Regions from separate parts of the Homo sapiens genome. Here region 1 is linked to region 2. Evidence: fine-mapped expression QTL. A gene starts in region 2. The other region holds a variant in brackets. All regions are shown on one strand. Distances are between the middles of the regions. Region 1 has its middle 110 kb from the start of ATP6V0E2. Region 2 holds the start of ATP6V0E2-AS1 (ATP6V0E2 antisense RNA 1).

The links. PIP is the estimated chance that this variant, and not a neighbour inherited with it, causes the effect. A credible set is the group of variants that fine-mapping cannot tell apart.
Region 1: its variant is the best candidate, but not a certain one, in a credible set for the expression of ATP6V0E2-AS1 in nasal epithelium (TOPMed, PIP 0.53).

The regions. Positions count from the first base shown.
Region 1 is chr7:149,985,423-149,990,797 of GRCh38, forward strand. It overlaps a transcript of ACTR3C not described here. Among named protein-coding and RNA genes, the nearest start is that of ATP6V0E2, 110 kb to the left of the region's middle. The variant T/C (reference allele first, on the strand shown) is at 3,088.
Region 2 is chr7:149,870,991-149,876,344 of GRCh38, forward strand. It overlaps ATP6V0E2-AS1 (ATP6V0E2 antisense RNA 1), which reads right to left and starts at 2,872. Exons shown (of 4, transcript NR_027040.1): 1 at 2,234-2,872; 2 at 652-806. It overlaps ATP6V0E2 (ATPase H+ transporting V0 subunit e2), which reads left to right and starts at 2,979. Exons shown (of 4, transcript NM_145230.4): 1 at 2,979-3,179; 2 at 4,608-4,655. The coding sequence starts at 3,076. RefSeq lists silencers at 2,506-2,715, 2,746-2,825, 3,236-3,415 and enhancers at 2,778-3,746, 3,076-3,215.

The sequences.
Region 1 (5,375 bases), 110 kb after region 2:
TTTACTATCTGCCATGCACTTCTAGAAGAGCTTGACTTGGGTTTTCTCATTTGTTTCTCAAAACATTCTTATGAGACAGACACCATTATTATCCCCACATTACAGATGAGGATACCAAGGCACCACAGAGCTAAGTGGTCGAGCCGGGAGTGGGCACCACCCAATCCAGCTTGTGCTACTGAACACGTGCTCTCTGATCACTGGAATCCTGGCAGTTTGATGGGAGAGACCTACTTCAAAAAATGCACAGTGCCATCAATGATGGAGCTGACAATAATCACAAATAACAACAACTGAATGTGTCTGTCCTTTCAATCAAGCACAGCCCATGGTACTTGTCAAAGCCCTTCTTTCTGTACCCATTTGAAAGGATGCATTTTTAGGCTTGAGCTCGAAGTCCCCATTCAGAATGAACAGAACCTCCCTATGTCCCACAGACATAGCAGATACATTCAGGTCTTTCTCTTTGGTTTGTCCTGCCTCACATGCACCCTCCTCTCCATCCCCCATCCTTTCCTAACTATCCTTTATCCTAAAACTGCTCATTCTAAGCCTTCAGCCCACATTAACCTCTTGCTTTCTCTTGTATTTTCTCTTCTATCCAGACACTGATCCCCAGACCCTGGAAGGTTTTCTGACTTTGAATAAAATAACAACTTCTAGATCTTGTCCTGGGCCATGGTCTGTCTGCTCTGTGACCTCCAGATGATGGAGAACTCCCGACCCATTTCCTCTTGGTGGGATGAGGTTTGCAAACTTCCTAGGAAATCACTACACATCAGTTGGGGCTGGCTGTTCCTGTGGAAAACCCACTCAACATTGCCAAAGCCTCCATCCCCTTTCTCGCTCATCCCATAAAGAATGGAAGTTTGTGGTCTCCCTTCTGCTCTACTGTTTGTACCTTATGATAAGGGGTCTGATGTGTCTGTGTGTTTCTCTCTGATTTCTGTCCTTCTTGTCTATTTTAAAACTCTGGCTGTTATTGTGTATTCACCGCGAGGTAAGTACCAGATTCCAGGGGAAATCAAGATTCTTCCCTGACTACCCAAGCAGAGTGATGCTTCTTTTTGATTCAGTCATAGTGTTTTCTGTTTCGTGTAACACAACTCCTTAGTAAAGGGTAAGCACCATGTTTCCTACCTAGTACAAGACTGATCAGAGGGTAGGCACTAATAGCACAAACACAATTTTTAGTTGGATGGAATTGAACAAACTCATTGCATTGAATGTTTCTGCATTTAACATCATTTGGAGAACACCAGGATGCAAATCTGGCCCATTTTCTCGCACAAAACTCCCCACCCATTGGTAGCCTGAAAGCCACAGTTGACAAATGTTAGGAAGCACCAGCAAAAACCAGTTTCCACCCCTCTTACCTTGACTTGTGTGACTGCCCACACTTCTATCCAGAGCCAAATGAAAGCTTCCAGTCAATGAAAAAATCTAGCAACCAATATTTAGGTAAGGTACTAAGAGCTATTTTGCATTCTGTTGCTCCCCCACCCTGCACCCCAATTAGGGTTCCCTGCATGGGCCCCGCAGGTATCTGAGGCTACTGCCTTGAAGCCCCCGCCCCACCCACTAAAGACACTGAGTACTGGAGGGTCCCCTCTCCTTGTTCTACAATCATAACACGCCCACACAGGGGCCTGCTTCTTCAGGGGTTTAGTGCCCTCCACTGGGGGACAAAGGGTAATCAATGGACTATTATGCAACTCACAAAATTCTTACTGTCTTTCCCCTTCTCAGGGAGAATTATGTCCTACCAGAGGAAAAAAAAATGCACACATCATCAATAAAATCTTTGTGAGCAGCTTTTTAAAAAACTATTATTATTTTTAAAGATTAGAAAATTAACAGCGGCCAGGCGCTGTGGCTCACGCCTGTAATCCCAGCATTTTGGGAGGCTGAGGCGGGTGGATCACTTGAGGTCAGGAGTTCCAGACCAGCCTGGCCAACATGGTGAAACCCTATCTCTACTAAAAATACAAAAATTAGCTGGGCATGGTGGTGGGTGCCCCATAATCCCAGCTACTCAGGAGGCTGAGACAGGAAAATCACTTGAACCTGGGAGGCAGAGGTTGCAATGAACTGAGATTGTGCCACAGCAGTCCAGCCTGGGCGACAGAGCAAGACTGTCTCAAAAAAGAAAAAATAAAAAATAAAAAAAGAAAAGAAAAGTAACAGCATACTAGAGTATAATTTTCATATGCTCCTCATTAAAATTTTGAAAATTGTTAGTTTTCATATTTTCTCCATATCTATTTTAAAAATTATTTCAATTGCATACAGGTACCAAAACATCATGCCTCGAAATCATTCAGGATGCATCTTTTTAAAAAATCTCAGTGAGCAACGCTAAAGAAGAGAGACCACAAGTTCTAGACGTTTTCCTGTATAATTAAGAAGAATCTGTTCAACAAACCCCCATGACATAAGCTTATCTATATAACAAACCTGCACATGTGCCCCTGAACCTAAAATAAAAGCTTTTTTAAAAAAGAAAAAGAACATTTTCACACTTAAAAACTGAATACAATTTTCTAATCTCATGTAATAACTTCCCCAATTACTCTAAAATGACTGGTATAGCTGGTTTGTATAGGTAAGGATTTAGCCAAGGCCCAGGAATTGCCCTTGGTTGGTGGTAACGTATATTTCAACTTAGAACGTGTCTGCCCCAGTGGCTCCCCAGCCCACCGCACATTGCTGGCTTGCTGGAAGGAATGGGCGAGTTGTTGCCTCCACGTTTCCACCTTCTGGATTTGTCTGGCTGTTTCCTCCTGGTGTGCATTAGCTGGACGCTCTGCAGCCTGTATTAGTTACGCACTGAAAGTTAGACCTAAGAGCTTGATTAAGTTCAGCTCACACATTTCTGGCATTACCTCACAGGTGATGCTAAGCACCGCATGGGGCATGGAAGGATATCTGCTTGTCCCAGTGTTAGGGATGCAGGAATTGATAAGGCGGAGAGCATCGGTGTTCTCCAGGATAAAGTCACATTTCTCCCCTTGCAACCAGCAGATGATCCCTGGAGTGATACTTTAGCACCATGTAAATTCCCTGAGATGACTGTGTATCCATTCA[T/C]GACATTTGCCTACATCAATTGGTTTACTAAAGATTTCTGCATTTTACAAGCAAGGAAAGAAGGCTCAGAGATGACCGTTGGGCCACTTAGCAAATTGGTGGCTGAGAGGCTGGCCTGCCAGAGGTGGGATACTTGCTCACCTCTTGCCCAGTCCCTAACCCACAGAAGTCTCATGATGAGAGAACCCTCAGCACCCTGAGAGAGTTAATGCATCATCCTTTGGCCCCATGAATCTGCCCAGAAGCCAGCTGAGAAAAGAAGGTAGAGAACAGGGCTGAGGGACAAGGTGCCCCTTTATATATTTGGGTGAACACATTTTTAAATTTTCCTTTCATTGTCCAGTCCCCATGAATTATTTATTTGTTATTAAATTCAACTGAATGAGATTTCAAAGCAACGAAAATTGAAGTTCAAATGAAACCAAATTACCACTCTGAGCTCCAGGTGGCCCTGACAGCCCAGTTTTGTGAAGGGCCCCTGAGGCTGTTCACTGAGTCTGAGATGTCACCAGGCATGGAGGGTCTCTGATCAGCATCCAGAGCTCCAGAGTAGGGAGCAACCCCTCACCACCACTTCTGGGCCCCAGGCAAGGCAGAGACCAAAAGAACCCTGGTAAGGTTCCCCAACCTCCATGTTCATTTAAAAAAAATGTTTAAAACTGACAAATAATAATTGCATATATTCATGGGGTCCATCATGATGTTTTGATATACATATACACATATGGAATGCTTATATCAAGATAGTTAACATATATATCACCTCACAGACTTATGTTTGTGGGTGTGTGGTACAAATATTTAAAATCTACTCTCTTAGCAATTTTTGAAACATACTTTACATTATTAAATATAGTCACCATGTTGTGCAATTGATCTCAAAAACTTATGCCTCCTGTCCAATGAAATTTTATATCCTTGTACCAACATCTCCCCAACCCACCCCCAACCATCCCTGAGCTAGTCTCTGCCTCTGTAATTTTGACTTTTTAAGATTCTACACAAGTGACATAATGTGGTATTTGTCTTTCTGTGCCTGGTTTATTTCATTTAACACAATGTCCTCCAGGTTCATTCATGTTGTCACAATTGACAGACTCTCCTGCTTTTTTAAGGCTGCATAGTATTCCATTGTGTGCATACACCACACGTTTCTTATCCATTCATCTGTGGATGAGCACAGGGAATGTTTCCATATCCTGGCCATCCAGAACAGTGCTGCAGTGAGCATGGGAGTGCAGATGTCTCTTTGACAAGCTGATTTCAGTTCCTTTGGTTCTAAACCCAGAAGTGGGATTGCTGGATCATCCAGTAATTCTATTTTGGATTTTTTTTAAGGAACCTCCACACTATTTTCCATATGGCTGTAAAACTCACATTCCCTCTAACACTGTGTGAGGGTTCCCTTCTCTCCACATCCTCGCCAACACTTGTTATGGTCCACATTCACTTTTCAAGGTGAAATCCATTCTCTGCACTCCCCTGCTTGAAAGCACTCGGCGTCAGTGCGTTGCTCCTTCCCTCACTTCCGGAGGCCCCTGATCTGAACCTTCATCCATCCCTCCCCACACGGGTCTCAATTTTTCCTCCAGCCTTTCAGCCTCTTTTCTCTCCAGGGACTTTGCACCTGCTCTCACCTGTGCCTGGGTTGTCAGTGAGCTCCATTGCACCCTTCATTCCCAGCCCAGCTGCTGCCTTCTCAGGAGAGACACCTTCCCAGACCTCCTTCACCCACGTGCACCCCCACCCATCAGCCCCTTTCCCATTTCCTACAAAGTCAGGAGCATTCACATATCACCTGTTGCTCCTCTACCCACTGCCTCTTACCTCCACAAGAACACAGCAGCAGCATGAGTGGCCACTGAATCTCCAGCACGCAGCCCAGTGCAGGGACAGAGCAGTGGGTCCTGTGTTTGCTCAGCCTTTTCACCAGAATGTCAATCACATCTGCTCTGCTCACCCCACCACACTCCATGTCTACCATCACATTCTATAAACACGCACCAAGGATATAACGCCTGGCCTAGCGGTTGGAGATGCAGAGACCAGACCTAGCCTTTCTGTTCCTCCTCTTAAGAAACTGAGCCCCTCATGGAGAAGTGAGGCAGACACATGAACATAAGTTTTGCAACAGAAGCACTTTTCACCAGGTAATGCTATGGGAGCAAAGAAGGAAGTAACGGAGCCTGGGGGAACTCAAGATGTTTTCTGAATGAACTTTTATCTCTGAGTAAGAAACAAGGGCGCATAGGCAGAGTCTGCCACCCCTTTCTCTCCTCTCCATTGGG
Region 2 (5,354 bases):
GTCCTGGGGCTCCTGTTCATTTGCACTGGGGGACACTCAGGGAAGTTTTAAAGAGCCTCTTTCAGTGGCTCCTTCTCCTTCTACCCTTTCTAGGAATTCATCAGCCCCATGAAAAGATGAACGATAGAGATGTCACCAACATCAGGACCCCACTCCCTGGGAGATGTCATGGAAACTTGTCAATCACACCCAAAGCACTCACTGAGGAGCCATGGCAGAGCAGTCGGTGGCGCCAATACCAACCAGAAGCCGCCAGGGCAGAGGGGAACCGTGAAGCCAGTGGAATGCACAGCTCCACCTCAGGGGACCGGGGTAGGCGGGGCTGTGTCTGGTAACATGCCCTTTGCCTCACATTAGTGCCTCTGAAAATAGTGTCCTCAGCCTGGGCACAAACCCTAGGGGTGAGCTGGGAGTGTGGAGGAGACGCTGGATTAGGGAGAAGTCTCGGCCATGTGTTCTGGCTCTTTTACTGATGAGCTGTGTGGGCCTAGGCAAGTTACTTCACTTCTCTGGGCCTCAGTTTTATCACCTGTAAAGTGATAGGATTGCCTTAGCCTCTAAGATCCCTTTCAGCTAAAAACAAAGTTCTAGAAAATAAATATGTGGTACTGTGGAACTCTGGGGAGCTGTTTGATCAGGTGAACAGTTTACCCATGGAAATGGGGCTCCAGCACAAAGCTGCTCACATCTTCCAGTCACGCTCCAGGGAACAGCCAGGGCTTGTGGGCCCAGATGAGGCTTTAGTGGTTGGAGAAGGAGCCAGTTCCTGGTTTTAATCCCTTCATGGACCTCAGACCATCACAAAGCTGCCAAACAAATGACACAGGCAATCACATGCAAATTAGGACAGAAATGAAACATCAAAGACATTAAAGGAAAAGAGTAAGAGCTGCAGGCTGCTAATATGAGTGGCTGCTCAGACTCAGCAATGTTTTTGGTTCTGGCCAAAGCCAAGACAAAGGAGCAGAGGCAAAGAAGGAAATACATTTCACTTTACAGCTGTCATTTTCTACAGAGGATTTTTTTTTTTCCAGAACAAAATTCAAAAAGTCCGTCTTTTTTGAGCTATAGAACTTTCGTGGTGATTTTTTTTTTTTTTTTTTTTTTGAGACGGAGTCTCACTCTGTCCCCCAGGCTGGAGTGCAGGGGCACAATCTCGGCTCACTGCAAGTGCAAGCTCTGCCTCCCGGGTTCACGCCATTCTCCTTTCAGCCTCCAAAGTAGCTAGGACTACAGGTGCCCGCCACCATGCCCAGCTAATTTTTTTATATTTTTAGTAGAGACGGGGTTTCACCGTGTTAGCCAGGATGGTCTCGATCTCCTGACCTCGTGATCCGCCCGCCTCTGCCTCCCATAGTGCTGGGATTACAGGTGTGAGCCACTGCGCTCAGCCCTCGTGGTGATTTTTTGAAGGCCTGTATGGACATACTCTTAACTCTATCTCCTGGATGCCAAGTGCACCCTTATCCTAGGCCAGTGTTCTCAACAATGTACACACTCTGGATGAGAAAAATAACCATTGTTTACAATCCAGCTAAAATCTCACCTCCTCCAGGGAGTCTTCCTGGATTTCTCCACCCTCTGAATTCTCATAATGGGCATTTGGCTACTTTGATCACAGGGCTCTTAGAACTGCGCTGTCCAGCATTATGATTTTACCAGAATATATCACTCCTCAACTACTTTAGAAACCCCTCGAAGGCTAGGATGGTATTTTATACCTAACAGTTTGGTGTCATCCCACGCCCACCTCCAACTTACATGAATGTTGGAAGGATGGATAGGGAGGTTTCAACTAGAGAACGGAGAAGGGCGGATGTAACTGGTTCTTGATTTCAGAAAACAGCCAGGAGCACACATGGCTGACGGGGTCAGTGCAAGGACAGGCACATTTCCCTTCTGCATCACGTGGGGACTGCGCCTCCCTATGTCATGAAGCCAGGGAATATGTGTGGCCGGCCGCTTGGGGTAGCACTTGTTGCTAGAGATACCGCCTGGAGGCCACTGATCTGTAAAAGGGATCTCTACAGAAGATAGGGATTTTTGATCGCCAGAGAAGAAGGGATATGTGAGATCCAAACGCCGAAGGAGGAAAGCAGGCTCCGTGGTCTCTTCCAGCCCTGATGGAAGAAACTACCGAGCCTTATTATACTAGGTGCTTTCCACATGCCTATTCATTTAATCCTCCAGCAACCTTGTAAGAAGGGCCATCCCATTTTATATTTAAACAAACCTTAACTACTGACGCAAGGAGTCAAGGATCTAATCCCAAAGCCTCTGCCTGGTTCGCTGCAGATGGATGTCCGCGAGGACGCCAGCCCTCCGCCTCCCGCCGGGTCCCTGAACGCCGGCCCGGCCGGTCCAACCTCATTCCGCTTCCCGCCATCGAAACGCGAAGCCCCCGCCTTCCCCCAAACGTCTCAGCGCCGCTGGGGCCTTTCTGGCTGCGCCGCCTCCGACCCCAGGCCCCGGTCCGCGCCCGCCGCTCGCTAGTCCTGGGAGTGAGGAGAACGCGTGCTGAGGACCCGGCCAGAGGGACAGCGGGGACCGCCCTCCCGCTGCGTCTCTGAAAGCGAGGCCGTTCCTCCCGCGTCCGACCCCCGCGGGGCCGTCAGGTTCGGGGCGGCCCAGGCTGCGGGTCCGCAGGGCGCTTCGGGCCGAGCCGGCGCGGCGCGTGAAGGGCAGGGGACGCCCCGAAAGACCGCTGGGGTGGGACCCCAAGCTCCAGGGGTCTTTGGAAATAAGAATGCGGCGTGACGTTGGCTGTGCGGGCGCGGGGCTGACGCGGACCCTATAACCCATCGCCGAAACCGGGCGGCCGCGCCCCTATTCCTCGGCATTTCTCTCTGTCCGCGGCCCTGCTCAGCCAATCAGCGAGTGGGCTCCTAGGCAGGTCCTGAGTGACAGCGCGGCGGGCTGGATCAGGAGATGCGCGTGCGCGGCCCGGCCCGGCTGATCGCTTCGGGTGCTCGACTCCTGTTGCGCATGCTCAGCGCGCTGCCCGGCTGGGGACCCGCGCACCTGCAGCGCCCGCTGCTCGGCCCTGCATCCTGCCTGGGCATCCTGCGCCCGGCCATGACGGCGCACTCATTCGCCCTCCCGGTCATCATCTTCACCACGTTCTGGGGCCTCGTCGGCATCGCCGGGCCCTGGTTCGTGCCGAAGGGACCCAACCGCGGGTAAGGAAAGCGCGCAGGCCCTGCAGACCTCTCCACCCCGGCCCCCTGGCCCGGCTCGCCCCTCCGCCCCGGGGCGGCGGCTTCCTGCTCTGCAGCGAGCGTCCGCAGGAGGGACGCCAGGACCCCGGACGCCACCTCTGAGGTCTCTCTGCACCTGGGTCTCTGACAGCCGGGAACAGGCAGGAGGTGGGGCGAGAGGGCATATCCAGAAGGTAAAGAGGAGAGTGACATTGGAGATGTCTGTCACCCCTCCTGCAGCCAGTAAAGGGCACAAGTGGGCACTGACGCAGTTTCTCCACTCCTTGCTAGCTGTGTGACCTAGAGCCAATATCAAGTCTCAGTTTCTTCATGGGTAAAATGGAGATAATGTCGACTCCTGCCTTAAAAGGCTGCTGTGAGGATGACCTGCGGTAACGCATTTAAAACACCTACCAGTGCGTGACACTTTGTAGGTATGGGATAAGTTTAGCTGGCGTTATTTTTCGAAGGTCCTCTAGCAGATTGCTGCGCCATTCACCAGTTTCTGCTTCATATTATCTTCAGTTACAAAGCACCCTTCCCTTGACTGCATGTTCCCAGGGGCTGGAGTTTGTCCAGTTCACCATTGTCTACTCAGTGCCCAGCCAGGACTGGCACAACCTGCTTAGTAATGTTGAAAAAGGGATCGCGTGCTCCTGTGTCCAGCACCAGCTTGCAGTGCTTTAGATCAAAGATCAAGGGCCTCGTTTGGATTAGAGTTAGCTTTGCCCAAAGGCCGTTTGGACATGTGAGTGCTGCCTTTGTTCTTAAAGACAGGCAGGGTTTGGGATCCCACAGCTTCACTTTGTAAACCATTTTCGTGTCTTGCGTCTCCTGCTATTCTTGGTGAGTTCTTGCTTCAGTTTGACTGAAATTTCTTTTGCTGCACTTGAAGCATCTGTCTCTGGTCTTCTCTGAGTACACGCAAAGTGGCTAGTCCCTGTTCTCTTTGTAACAACTCACTGGGCCTCAGAACTGGCTCACAGTCTGCCTGCTTCTTGCCCTGTCTTCTAGCCTATTGTTTTCCTTCCCCTTGCTCCATGAATTTTGAATTCTACAGACCACTCCCTGTTGGGTTGCCACAAATGCAGCTCTGTGCAGTGCCTTTCCACAACACGTCTGCATTAAGATGGAGCAATATTGGGTGGTAGAGAAGGGAAATGAAGGGAAGGATTCTTAAGGCAACTTGGATGTGGTCAAGGTTGGCCTCTCTGTGAGGTGACACTTTCAGTTTTTATTTTCTGCCTTGCTATTCTTACCCTGAGTAGAACTCAGCCTCCTGTGTCCAGGAGGCATCAGGAAGGCCAATGGAAAAGAGCTCACACCAGGAGCTCTTCTTGCTCTGGTCCTGGCCAGGCCTTGTGAGGTGCTGGCTGCATTTGTTCTGACCCGTGTCCTCTTCTGCTGCAGAGTGATCATCACCATGCTGGTCGCCACCGCCGTCTGCTGTTACCTCTTGTAAGTACTACTCTCCCCAGCTCAAAGTCAGCCAGTTCCTTTGTCCTCCCTCCTTTCCTCCTCACCCTAGCCTGCTCTTCCTTCTGTCCTGGTAGTAAATGCCTCTTGAAAGGCTGAACCTATAAAACAACAGGAGTGGAGGTGGTGTGGAATGGGAAAGAGAGCAGTGGGCCAGAAGTCATGAACCCTGGGCTCTGGATCTGGCTCTGCCCCCAGAGTTCTGGCCCCCATGGGCTGTAGTTTTCTCACCTGGGCAAGGAAGGAGGCAGGCCACCTCAGTGCTGTCTGTGCCTGACTGGGTCACCTGGAGTGATTGTTCAAACACAGTTTTCAGGCTGCACCCTACACCCATGAAATTACAACTCTCGAGATCTGCACTTGGGAATTCCTGTTGTTCATGAATGCCCCCAGGTGACTGGAATGCAGCCATCTTAGAACCACTAGGTGAGAGGCCAGACGTGGCGGCTCACGCCTGTAATCCCAGCACTTTGGGAGGCTGAGGTGGGTGGATCACGAGGTCAGGAGTTCGAGACCAGTCTGGCCAACATAGTGAAACTCCGTCTCTACTAAAAATACAAAAATTAGCCAGGCCTGGTGGCGCGTGCCTGTAGTCCCAGCTACTCAGGAGGCTGAGGCAGGAGAATCGCTTGAACCCGGGAGACGGAGGTTGCGGTGAGCCAAGATCTTACCACTGCACTC